Homo sapiens: one gene and its partners. The protein of the gene in region 1 purifies or fractionates together with the protein of each later gene. This does not show direct contact. Each region holds a gene or a part of one and is shown on either strand. Other genes may lie near its edges.

Evidence for each region.
Region 2: the proteins of FLYWCH2 (region 1) and SELENBP1 purify together in Homo sapiens (affinity purification with mass spectrometry; 2 studies listed by BioGRID and IntAct, with this or other methods). This does not show direct contact.
Region 3: the proteins of FLYWCH2 (region 1) and C10orf88 purify together in Homo sapiens (co-immunoprecipitation; one large-scale study listed by IntAct). This does not show direct contact.

What each region holds. Positions count from the first base shown.
Region 1 is NC_000016.10:2,896,388-2,899,865, forward strand, and holds the end of FLYWCH2 (FLYWCH family member 2), read left to right. Parts: 5' UTR 1-62; coding exon 63-384; intron 385-2,388; coding exon of another isoform or gene 2,389-2,459; exon of another isoform or gene 2,460-2,567; intron 2,568-2,661; coding exon 2,662-2,762; 3' UTR 2,763-2,978; downstream 2,979-3,478.
Region 2 is NC_000001.11:151,363,756-151,366,858, forward strand, and holds the end of SELENBP1 (methanethiol oxidase), read right to left. Parts: coding exon 2,967-3,103; intron 2,699-2,966; coding exon 2,520-2,698; intron 2,092-2,519; coding exon 2,013-2,091; intron 1,930-2,012; coding exon 1,808-1,929; intron 1,527-1,807; coding exon 1,434-1,526; intron 1,290-1,433; coding exon 1,171-1,289; intron 951-1,170; coding exon 788-950; 3' UTR 549-787; downstream 1-548. UniProt on the Homo sapiens protein: Catalyzes the oxidation of methanethiol, an organosulfur compound known to be produced in substantial amounts by gut bacteria. Selenium-binding protein which may be involved in the sensing of reactive xenobiotics in the cytoplasm.
Region 3 is NC_000010.11:122,937,105-122,940,756, forward strand, and holds part of C10orf88 (ATPase PAAT), read right to left. Parts: intron 1,056-3,652; coding exon 601-1,055; intron 1-600. UniProt on the Homo sapiens protein: ATPase that regulates mitochondrial ABC transporters ABCB7, ABCB8/MITOSUR and ABCB10. Regulates mitochondrial ferric concentration and heme biosynthesis and plays a role in the maintenance of mitochondrial homeostasis and cell survival.

The DNA of each region.
Region 1 (3,478 bases):
GTAGGAGAAATCCACCTGCTGGGGGCTGAGTGTGGCCTGAGGGACAGGCCCTGGGTCCCGGGATGCCCCTGCCCGAGCCCAGCGAGCAGGAGGGTGAGAGTGTGAAGGCCAGCCAGGAGCCATCCCCCAAGCCAGGCACAGAAGTCATCCCGGCAGCCCCCAGGAAGCCCAGAAAGTTCTCCAAACTGGTCCTGCTCACAGCCTCCAAAGACAGCACCAAGGTGGCGGGGGCCAAGCGCAAGGGTGTGCACTGTGTCATGTCCCTGGGGGTGCCCGGCCCCGCCACCCTTGCCAAGGCCCTCCTCCAGACCCACCCCGAGGCCCAGCGGGCCATTGAGGCAGCCCCTCAGGAGCCTGAGCAGAAACGGAGCAGGCAGGACCCAGGTGAGGCTCCACAGCGGCCCCCCAGGACAGCTCGGCACCTCCCAGGGTGGCCCCCACAGCCGCGCTGGCTCCATCAGGCGCTTCTCCCTGGCATGCGGGTCCTTGTTCCCTGACTTTGACCACGTGTGGAGAGCAGTGGCACAGGGGTTAGGGCACAGGCCTGGGCATCCGCCGACCTCCAACCCTGCCTCTGAGCGGCCTTGCCTCTCTGTGTCTGTTCCCCACTCTGGAATGCGCTGCCTACTGGCTCCTTCACAAGGGAGGGTCTGAGGGTGCGGCGGGGCCCACAGGCAGCTGCCGTCAGCTTCAAGGTCTTGGCTCGCAGCTGTTCGATGAGGGTCTCTAAGACCGGGGGCTTGATGGGTCACCTTTCCATATGTTCTAGAAAGCTTCTTTGGTCTCACTCACCGTTCAGTCACTTAGTAACATCCACTGAACAGCAGCTGTGTGCAGGCTGGGCTCTGGAGACTCGAGTCACGCAGGATGAGACTCCCAGCAGACTAAGGCAGTGACCTCAGCCTGGCTCTCCGGGACTGCCCCTGCTCTCCCTACCTCCTCTGCACAATCACCCCCCACCAAGCCTCCGGGGAGATACAGCTCAGGGCTCACAGGTCCCATGGGAGAGTGGGGCTGGGGGTGTGGCCCTAGCTGCTGCGGGCTGGCTGGAGGTGATGGGGCAGGTTCATTCCCTGTGCTTTGCTGTGGGAGTGATGGGATGGATGGAGGCACTGAGCATCTTCAGTCCCTGCTCCCACTCCCCAGGGCCCTTGGCTCTGCCCCTGCTGTGTACTAGACCTTTCAGCTAGACTTGGGGAACATAGTCAGGTGGGCCATGGTAGCAGAGATGGGATGAGAGCAGGGCTGCCCCTTTCCCTGCACCCAGCTCTCCCTGAGGTGGCCCAGGCCATGCCCTGCTGTCCCCTGCAGGAGGACAGGTCCCCTCCTGGCCCCACAGCAGGTCCTGCCTCTGGGCTCTACCAGGGCAGGCAGCGGTGGGGGCAGGGCCCTAGGCAGCAGAGGAAATGGGCTGGGTACACCTTTTGAACTGGAAGTTCCAGGGAGATGGGGCAGGGGGCTGCCCAGTGGGTGGGAAGAAGGTGAGTTGGGGTTTCTTCCCAACTGGGAGTGGGCTCTGCCGTGCCCTGAGAAGAAGAGGCGTAGCAGGTGGCCTTGGCTTGTGACCTCTGAACAGGTGGTCCCCTGGGGTCAGCCAGAACAGGTGGTCCCCTGGGGTCAGCCAGGGCACTCAGCCTGGCAGCCCATTGTGAGAAAAGGTTCCTTCAGTTTGCTGGCCGTGCAGGGACCCTGCCTCACTGATGGAAATTGAGGGGTGAGTGGCCTGAGGTCACAGAGGGTCACAGCCCCACAGCCTCCCTGGGGCTGAGACCCCAGAATGCCTGAGATGGTGGTGTCCGCAGCCACAGGCTTGGAGCTTTCAAGGAACCTAATGGACCCCTCGGCCTCCATCCCTCTGCTGGAGTCTCAGGCCTGGTGTGAGCAGTGCTCTGGGACTCAGAGGGACCCCGTCCTCCCAGAGCCGGTGGGAGTGCCTGGCTCTTACTGCGAAGCCCCCACCATCCAGTCCTGCTCTGAGAGCCTCTGCCTGTCCCCCTGGCTTCTCCTGCCAACCTTGGGCAGAGGATGCAGTCCCCATGGCCTGTGGGAGGCAGGGCTCAGAGGAGCGAAGTCGCCACTCTGAGGCCACCAGGAGGTCCCTGCAGAGGGCAGAGGGGGTTGGAGTCTGGCTCAGGATCTGTTACACCTGAGCTCTGTGGAATGAGACCATCTCAAGGTCCTCCCAGCCCCTTTGAGACTCCTGCTCACTGCTGGGATCCATCTAGGCCTGGGGCCGTGGTGCCTTTGTGAGAATTGGAGCACAGCCATCTTCGCCAGATGAAAGGCAGAGCAGGGCTCCATCAGGCGCCAGGGGTCCCGCAGGCAATCACCCTCAGGCATCGACCACCCCCATCTGCCAACTCCTCCATCCTTCCATCCCCACCCCAGGTCCAGCAGAGGCGATGGCTGCGGCTTCCCAGTGCTCAGCACAAACTTGGCCTCAAGTTTCCTGGAAATGACTTTAGCAGCTTTTGTGGCCCTGGCCTGGTGGCCTTGGGAGCAGCGTCCCTGAGTGGCAGTCACTTCTCAGTCAGGCAGAGGCTTCTGGCCCTGGAGCATCCACTGGTTGGGGTGAGAGTGAGGCCTGGTAGACCCCCAACAGCCAAGCTGAGCCCTCCCATCTCCATTGACACCAGCCTGATCCACCCTCTTCTCTCGCAGGCACAGACAGAACAGAAGACAGTGGATTAGCAGCGGGGCCTCCTGAGGCTGCTGGGGAGAACTTTGCCCCCTGCTCTGTGGCGCCCGGCAAGTCCCTGTAACCTTGACAACAGGCGCATCCTCCCAGGCCACCAACCCAGCCATAGGCTCTTCTCTGTCCGCAGGGCTTCTGGGGCCAAATGGGTGAATCTTTGCTTTTAACATTGTGTGATTTCTTTTCTTTTTTTTTTTTTTTTTAGATCAAGTATAAGTTACTTTTGTAAGCAGAAAAATACTTTCAAACAAGAATAAAAGAAGCTGTTCGCTAGACCCCATAATGGGCAGGTTTTAAACATCCCAGGCTTCTGGGTCCTTTGAGGCTCAGCTCTGATGCCACCACCCCTGGGTCTCCGCACCCCAGCCCTTACTGGGCCCTTCCAAAGTGCCCCTTAGTCACTGCCCTCCCTGACCCAAGTCTCGCTTCCTCCATGAAGCCTCCCAGACTGACAGCTCCCAGGCACTAAGGGAGCTCAGGCTTGCTGAGAATGGTAGCTCCAGGATTCTGCTGAGGGAGAGGTAGGCCTGCAGCTCATGGGTGGGTTCAGGGAGGAACCTGACAAAAGCACATGCGGCCTGCCTGTCATGTTTTTTCCAGGGGATTTGTGGGCTGAGGAAACCTGAGTTCCTGCCCTGGCCCCCTGGGTGCCATCCCTGCTGGAGGGGAGATGAAGGAAGCACAGCTACCCTACTTGAGCTCCCAAGTCAGCGAGCCTCCAGGAGGCTTCCCATGAGTCCTCATTCTTTGACAACTGCCTCTGGGCTCAAGGCAATGTTAGGG
Region 2 (3,103 bases), on another chromosome or scaffold:
AAGCCGGGCAGATGCCAGTGTCATGCTTCCTGTAGAGCCTGCAGAACCATGAGCCAATTAAACCTCTTTTCTTTATAAATTACCCAGTCTCAGGCATTTATAGCAATGCAAGAGCAGCCTGATAAACCTCCCAACAGCTGCGTTCTCCCAGTCGTCTTGCCATCAGTGGAAATATATTACACTATACACAACAGGGATCCTGGGGTCTCCTGTGTGTGAGGGAGCATGTTACATTCTCTTGAGAGTGATGGGTGAGATTTTTAGGTTCATTAAAAGAAAGCATGGGTTAAAAAAAAACCAAAACTTTAGAAACACCGATTTACATTCTCTACCCCCAGGTCTCCTTGTGACGATCACCCCCAAAATTTTCAGATTTTGTCTGGCCATAAAATTGAGATTTGGGCATTATTAGCATCATGTTGGAATCACTGGTGTGAACTAGTTACCATAACCCCCACTGGAGGCCTCTTTAGCCCTTTCTTGTGCATGATACAAAGGGTAGGCAGAAGAAGAGACACAGGCCCTGGGCCCCCAAAGACAAGGCCATCTGAAGGACAGGGTTACGAGTTTATTTCTTGGTGCCTCCAAGAGCTCATGGAAAAGCAGCACAGTGAGCAACAAGCAACAGTGGTCAGTAAATGTATATGACTCAACACATTGCCACAGTCTCAGCTTGGCTGTGTGGTACATGCTGCCAAGGGTCGGGTGCCAAGAGAGAGCAGAATGAAGCCAGGTCCCCAAGGAAGTGAGGGCCCAAAATAGGGAGTGTGGGTGATGAGGGTGGAGTTCAAATCCAGATGTCAGAGCTACAATCGCCCCCAGGGTAGCGGAGCTCATGGGCAAGGGCTGGGCCAAGGGGCTCCTTCCCGAAGTCCACCAGGAAGTTGGGGTTCAACTTCAGCCCTCCTTTTACTGTGTCTACATCAACCTGCAGCATCACAGAGCCTTCCCTGGTGGAAAAGGGAATGGGGTAAGGGAGAGGTCAGAGGTGGCTGCCCCCTTCCCCTAAGATTTTAGGGGAAAGCTCCTGAGGAAGGAGGAATGACCAGGGTCTCAATGGGCCATCTGTGTGGTGGGGTACAGGGGTCTCCTTGAGGAGTCTTCAGAAAGCCAAATGACCCCTCTGGAAGAGGAGGGCTGGGGAGGAGAGCCCATGTGTCTGCTTCTCACCTGATGAGATCAGGGTAAAACTGCTTGTCCCAGGCACTGTACAGCGACGTGGTGATGTAGAGGCGCTTCCCATCCAGGCTGAGCTGGATCATCTGAGGGCCTCCAGCCACCCGTTTTCCCTTGGGAAAACCAGGGGTCAGAGCCCAGGGTAACACACAGATCCTAGGCACCACCCCAACCCCAAGAGTATGCTCAGCTGCTCCCCCACATATTCCTCAAGCATGGGTCTGAGGGGTCCAGCAAGTAGGGGGAGAGGCTCTTACCTTGACCACTAGGGGCTCTGGCTGGGACTTTAGTTCCTCGTCCTCCAGCACTTGCACAGGGCCTCCCTTAACAATGCTGCCTCCGAGGAAGAGCTAGATGGGGAGGTGCAGAGTATAAGGAGGACCATAGTGGGAGGCGCAAACATTGCAGGAAGAGCAGCTTGCCTGGCTGGAACCCCTCTCTCCTTTCAGACATGCTCTGCATGCCCATCCCTGGCCTGGACAGTCCTGGGCCTGTGCTGTCCCACAGCACACATGTCTGCTTTTCCTGCACCTCCCTCAACATCCTGCAGCTGCTTCAGATCATCCACCCCATCCCCAGCTTCTCTTCTCTTTCCTTCCTTCCCTTCTGCTCCTCCTGCCAGGGTCTCCACCTGTCCTGTGAGGCGGGGTCTCTGTGGGTCAGAGATGTCATACTGCCTCAGGTCCCCATGCAGCCAGTTGCTGAAGTAGAGGAAGCGGTCGTCCAGGGAGAGCAGGATGTCGGTGATCAGGCCTGTGGGCAGGGGGCGAGTAGAGCCTTTAAGGACTCTTGTTTCCCAGGCCAAGAATCAACTTTCCTATGCCCTAGGCACTCACCTGGCATTTCGGGCAGCAGCCAGCCCTTCACTTTCTTGGGGGGCACCTGGATCACCTTCTCCACTGACCATGTACCTCCCTACATTGAGGGGTGGAGGGTGAGGTTAGCTGGCAGAGAGGTCAGCCTATCAGAATTGGGGACTAGGGGTTAGATCTGGGTTGCCCAGACCTGGGAGGGAGAGAATAGATGCCCGGCCTTCTTGCCAGCAGGATCTAACTCCATGCAAGCCCCTTGAGGCAGGGGTTGTGTCTGCTTCACCACTGCATTCCCAGAACATAGCACAGTGCCTAGCACAGACATTCACTAAGTAGTTTTTGAATGAATGGATAAATACGGCCAGTTAGGGTTCAGGCAGAAGTTGCCCTAGCACTGAGAGAAGAGAGACAGGGCATGCAGCCTCATTTTTTTCGTTCCTGGAGACGCCTGGGAGCACCGTTACAGAAGCCTGCTTAGGTAGAGCTGCTGACAAGACTACTGGGAGGGGAGGGCCAGAGGGCGTATGTCACCTCGTTCTTGTAGAAGCGCTGGATGGTGGAGCTGAGTGCGCAGCCCACAAAGCCTTGGGCAGCGTCTGGGTTGTGCAGGAAGCGGATCTCCAAGGGAATAAGCCCATCTTTTAGAGACAGGGTCTGCACAATCTCATGGCGCTGCCAGTCCCATACATATAAGTGGCTCCCGTACAGTCCTGGGGTGGGAGTGGGGCCGGAGGATAGGCTCAGCATCAGAGGTTGGAAGGCATGGGCAAAGACTGGGCCACCAATCAGGGCAGAAGGTTAAGAAATGGATTGGAGGGATCAGGAAGACGCTTGAGCAATCTGAGCATGCGGTACATCCTATGCCATCTCTCTTAGATTCTGGGGCCACAGGAGGGAAGTGTGGGGGTGGGAGATTTGGAGCAGAAAGCAAGGGGATGTAGGCCCAAGGCTCCTGCTGGCACATGGGGGGATTCTCACCAGCCTCCACATCAGCGGGGTTGAAGCCATCTCGTAAGACATTGGGAGCTGCCCACTCAGTGCTGATCATGACATTGTGTCGAGGCTGGTACCAGAAGTCATAGCCCAACGGTGCAGCACCCCCAGGTCTCTCCCAT
Region 3 (3,652 bases), on another chromosome or scaffold:
CTAGAGTCCTGAATTCTAGTCTAGAACACCATTTTGACATACTATATCTACTTAAGCAATTAGGAACATAATACTTAGCTATCTCTTAATCAAATATGTACTGCCAAAATAAGGGATTAAGAGACTGGGGATAATAGCTTGTAAACTACAAGTGATTATTATCCTAATATAGTTTTTTAATAATCAGGAATTTGCCTAGACCAAACATAATCTTCAAGGAAAATGTCACAATGACATGCTTAACATACCCAGGCACAAAATAGTACAAATATATAAAAACAACATAAAGATTATAATTCCCACAGCTCCTTTCCATTCATGCAAATCACTTTCTATTCCAACTGTGAACTAATACTTGTGACCCTTCCACAAAATGCCTGGGAAGTGTGCAAAACCTCCAGTTATAGGGACTTCTTTCAAAGTAATCCATTCTACTCTGCAGTTATCCCCTTTAAGTGTATTAATGGTAAAATGTAAAAGTTGCTAAAATTTTCTCTGGAAACAAATTTTAGGCAGTACTCATTGAGACAAATCTGTTTCCTTTCATCTGATTCTTCCACCTACCAAATCGAAACTCGTATGTCTTAAAATAATACTTACCCAACACCAAGAATGCGTTCACCATGCTTGGTGATGTTTTCCTGACACTCGGTCTTATTTCCCACATGGAGATGATTAACTTGACTACATAAATTCTGGAGAAAAGGCAGCAACTCGGAGTTGGGTATATTTGAGTTGTCACTTACTTTCTTTGGTAAGAAAGAGGCCATTGCATTTTTAAGATCATTTTCAAGAAAGGAATGGTTTTGAGGCATAACTTTACACTCATCAAGCTTGGTAGAATTCTCTCCACCAGGCAGTTGTGTACTTTTATCAATGTAAGTTTGTAAGTTTTCAGTCACGTTCCCAGATGTCAATCCAGTTCTAAAAGGAAAAGGTGTGGAGGACGACTTGTTTAAGGTTCCTAAGGTAGATGAGGATTGTAGTCCAATCATATGCTTGTATCCAGAATTGCCCAACACCGACTGAAGCTGCTCTCCAATGGGAATACAATTCTAAACAAGGTAAACAAGTAAATGTTAATATTAATAACACTGACAGCTAACTTTTGGAGTAATTACTATGAGTCAGGCACTGTGCATTGTTTCATCCAATCCTCAAAACATCCTTATAAAGTAGGCCACTAATACTATCCCAATATTAAGCTGAGGAGACCAAGGCTAAAGGTACCTAGCCAAGGTAACCAGCCAGTAAGTGGCAGAACTGGAACATGAACGCAGGTCACTTAACTCCACAGTCATGACTTTCAATCATTTCATTGTAGTTTTTCCCAAAAGAAATTAAATAAATACTAGCATGAATAGTCAAACTGCACTGACACTAATGTTTCCACTACAAATGTCTCTTTATGATAATAAAATGTACTACTCTCAACTGAGTCACAAGAACCGGTAAGTTTCTTAAAATTCAATTATATCATTCCCAACTGTCAAAATACGGTAAGTTACTCACTTTCATCTAGTAATATCTTTTGCAATGAATTTTTCCTGGAAACTACACAGATAGGTATGCTATTTAAAGTTAGATGCTCTATGGGTACATTTGTGACATTTTCAATGACTGAAATTAGCTACTTCTGGCTGTGTTTGCTCTAAGAATTTCCAGGATAATGAGAGTTGTTTTGCAGCCTCAATTCAACTGGTTATGCAGTATTATTTCCTGAGAAGATTCTGGCTTACCTTGAAGGGATGATTACAGTATCTCCCTTTTATGCTCTTTAATTTTTCCATTGGATAAAAGAAAATATCTCTAGCCTAAGTCTTAAGGCATATGGCTCCACTCTAAATTCAAAACATAAAAGTCTACTATAGATTCTTATCAGGGGTTATCATCCCACACTTATTGCTGTTCAACAGCTGGTGAAACAGACTGAAAAAGCAATATGTAAATTAGCTGAAGAAACTCAGTTCATATACTTATAGATATTCTAAAAAGTTATTACTAGACTAAGCCGGAACAACATTAATTTATTCAACAAATATTTACCAGGAATCTACTCTGTGCTAGTATTGTTTCAAGCACTGGAAATACAGCAGCGAACAAAATAAATTAAAATCCCTGACCTCACAGAGCCTATATGACAGGGGAGCAAGGAGACACAAACTACAAAAGAAAAGAAGGAAAAAGGGGAAAGAAAAGAAAAAGAGAAAGTAAGGGAAAGAGAAAAGAAGTGAAGAAGGAAGAAGAGAAAAAAGTCAAGAAAAGAAAAGAAAGGAAAAAATGTATCATGAAATGGAGATGGTGATAAATACTTTAGGGAAAAATAAAGTGAGAAAGGAGAATAATAAGGGCCAGGGAAGCTGGGGGAAGATTTGTAATGTCATGTCCCCATCTAACTTTTTACCAAACTGCACTTTGGAAAAGTGCTCTTTATAGAGAAATGTTAACCTACTGTAAGTTTATCTTGTTTTATAAAATGCAAGTTTTGAATAAACTTGAATATTTAAATATTCCTGGAATAAGATGAATTATGTAAAATTATATTTATAAAATGTTAACATTGGACAACTCCCCATAAGCTCAAAGAAAGTTACTCAGTCATAACAGGAAAGCCCATTTATTTCTCTATGACATTTCAAAACAAAATGTACAGTGGAAAACTACATTAAGAGTAATAATATTTACACTACAGTCAATGTCAAAAGTATGGGTGAACATTAAGTAGGCAGAACATTTAAACAGAAAAATCTAAATGTAAAGGTATTTGCTATGTAAATTTTTCCTTTCTGACATATAATATTCTGTTTATAAGAATTCACTGATTATGAAAATTAGTCATTGGTTAAGAATGTAAAATAGTATAGCAGTGATGAAAAACAGTATGGAGGCTCCTCAAAAAATTAAAAATAGAACTACCATATGATCTAACAATCCCACTTCTGGGCATATATCCAAAATAACTGAAACTGGGATCTCAAAAAGATTATCTGCACTCCCATGTTCACTGCAGCAGTACTCACAACCGCCAAGATACAGAAACAACCTAAATGTCCATTGACTGATGTATTGATAAAGAAAATGAAATGAAATATCATTGAATGAATATCATACAATGAAATACCATTCAGCCTTTGAGAAGAAGGATATTTTGTCATGTGACAATATGATCAATCTGGAAGACATGCTAAGTGAAATAAGCCAGGCACAGAAGAATAAATAATGGATGATTCCATTAACATGACATATCTAAAATAGTTAAACTCAGAAACAGAGAGTAGAATGGTGGTTGCTAGGAGATGGGGGGAAGGAGAAATGAATTGCTATTCAATAGGTATAAAGTTACAGCTTTACAAGATGAATCTGTTTTAGAGATCTTCTGTACAACAGTGTCTATAGTTAACAACACCATATTGTACATTTAAAAATTTGTTAAGAGGGTAGATCTCATGTTAAGTATTCTTACCACAATTTAAAAAAGGTCACATTTTCTGAGATGAGAGCTCTTTAGATGATCTTTTCTCTTTGGAATAAATATCAAGAAATTCAGATATGTCTACATGCCACTATAGGAAATGAAGAAATCTCAGGTGCCTGGTAGCTAATCCTTTATTTCTCTTTATGTGAGCCTCCACTGTTAACATGCTATTAAAAA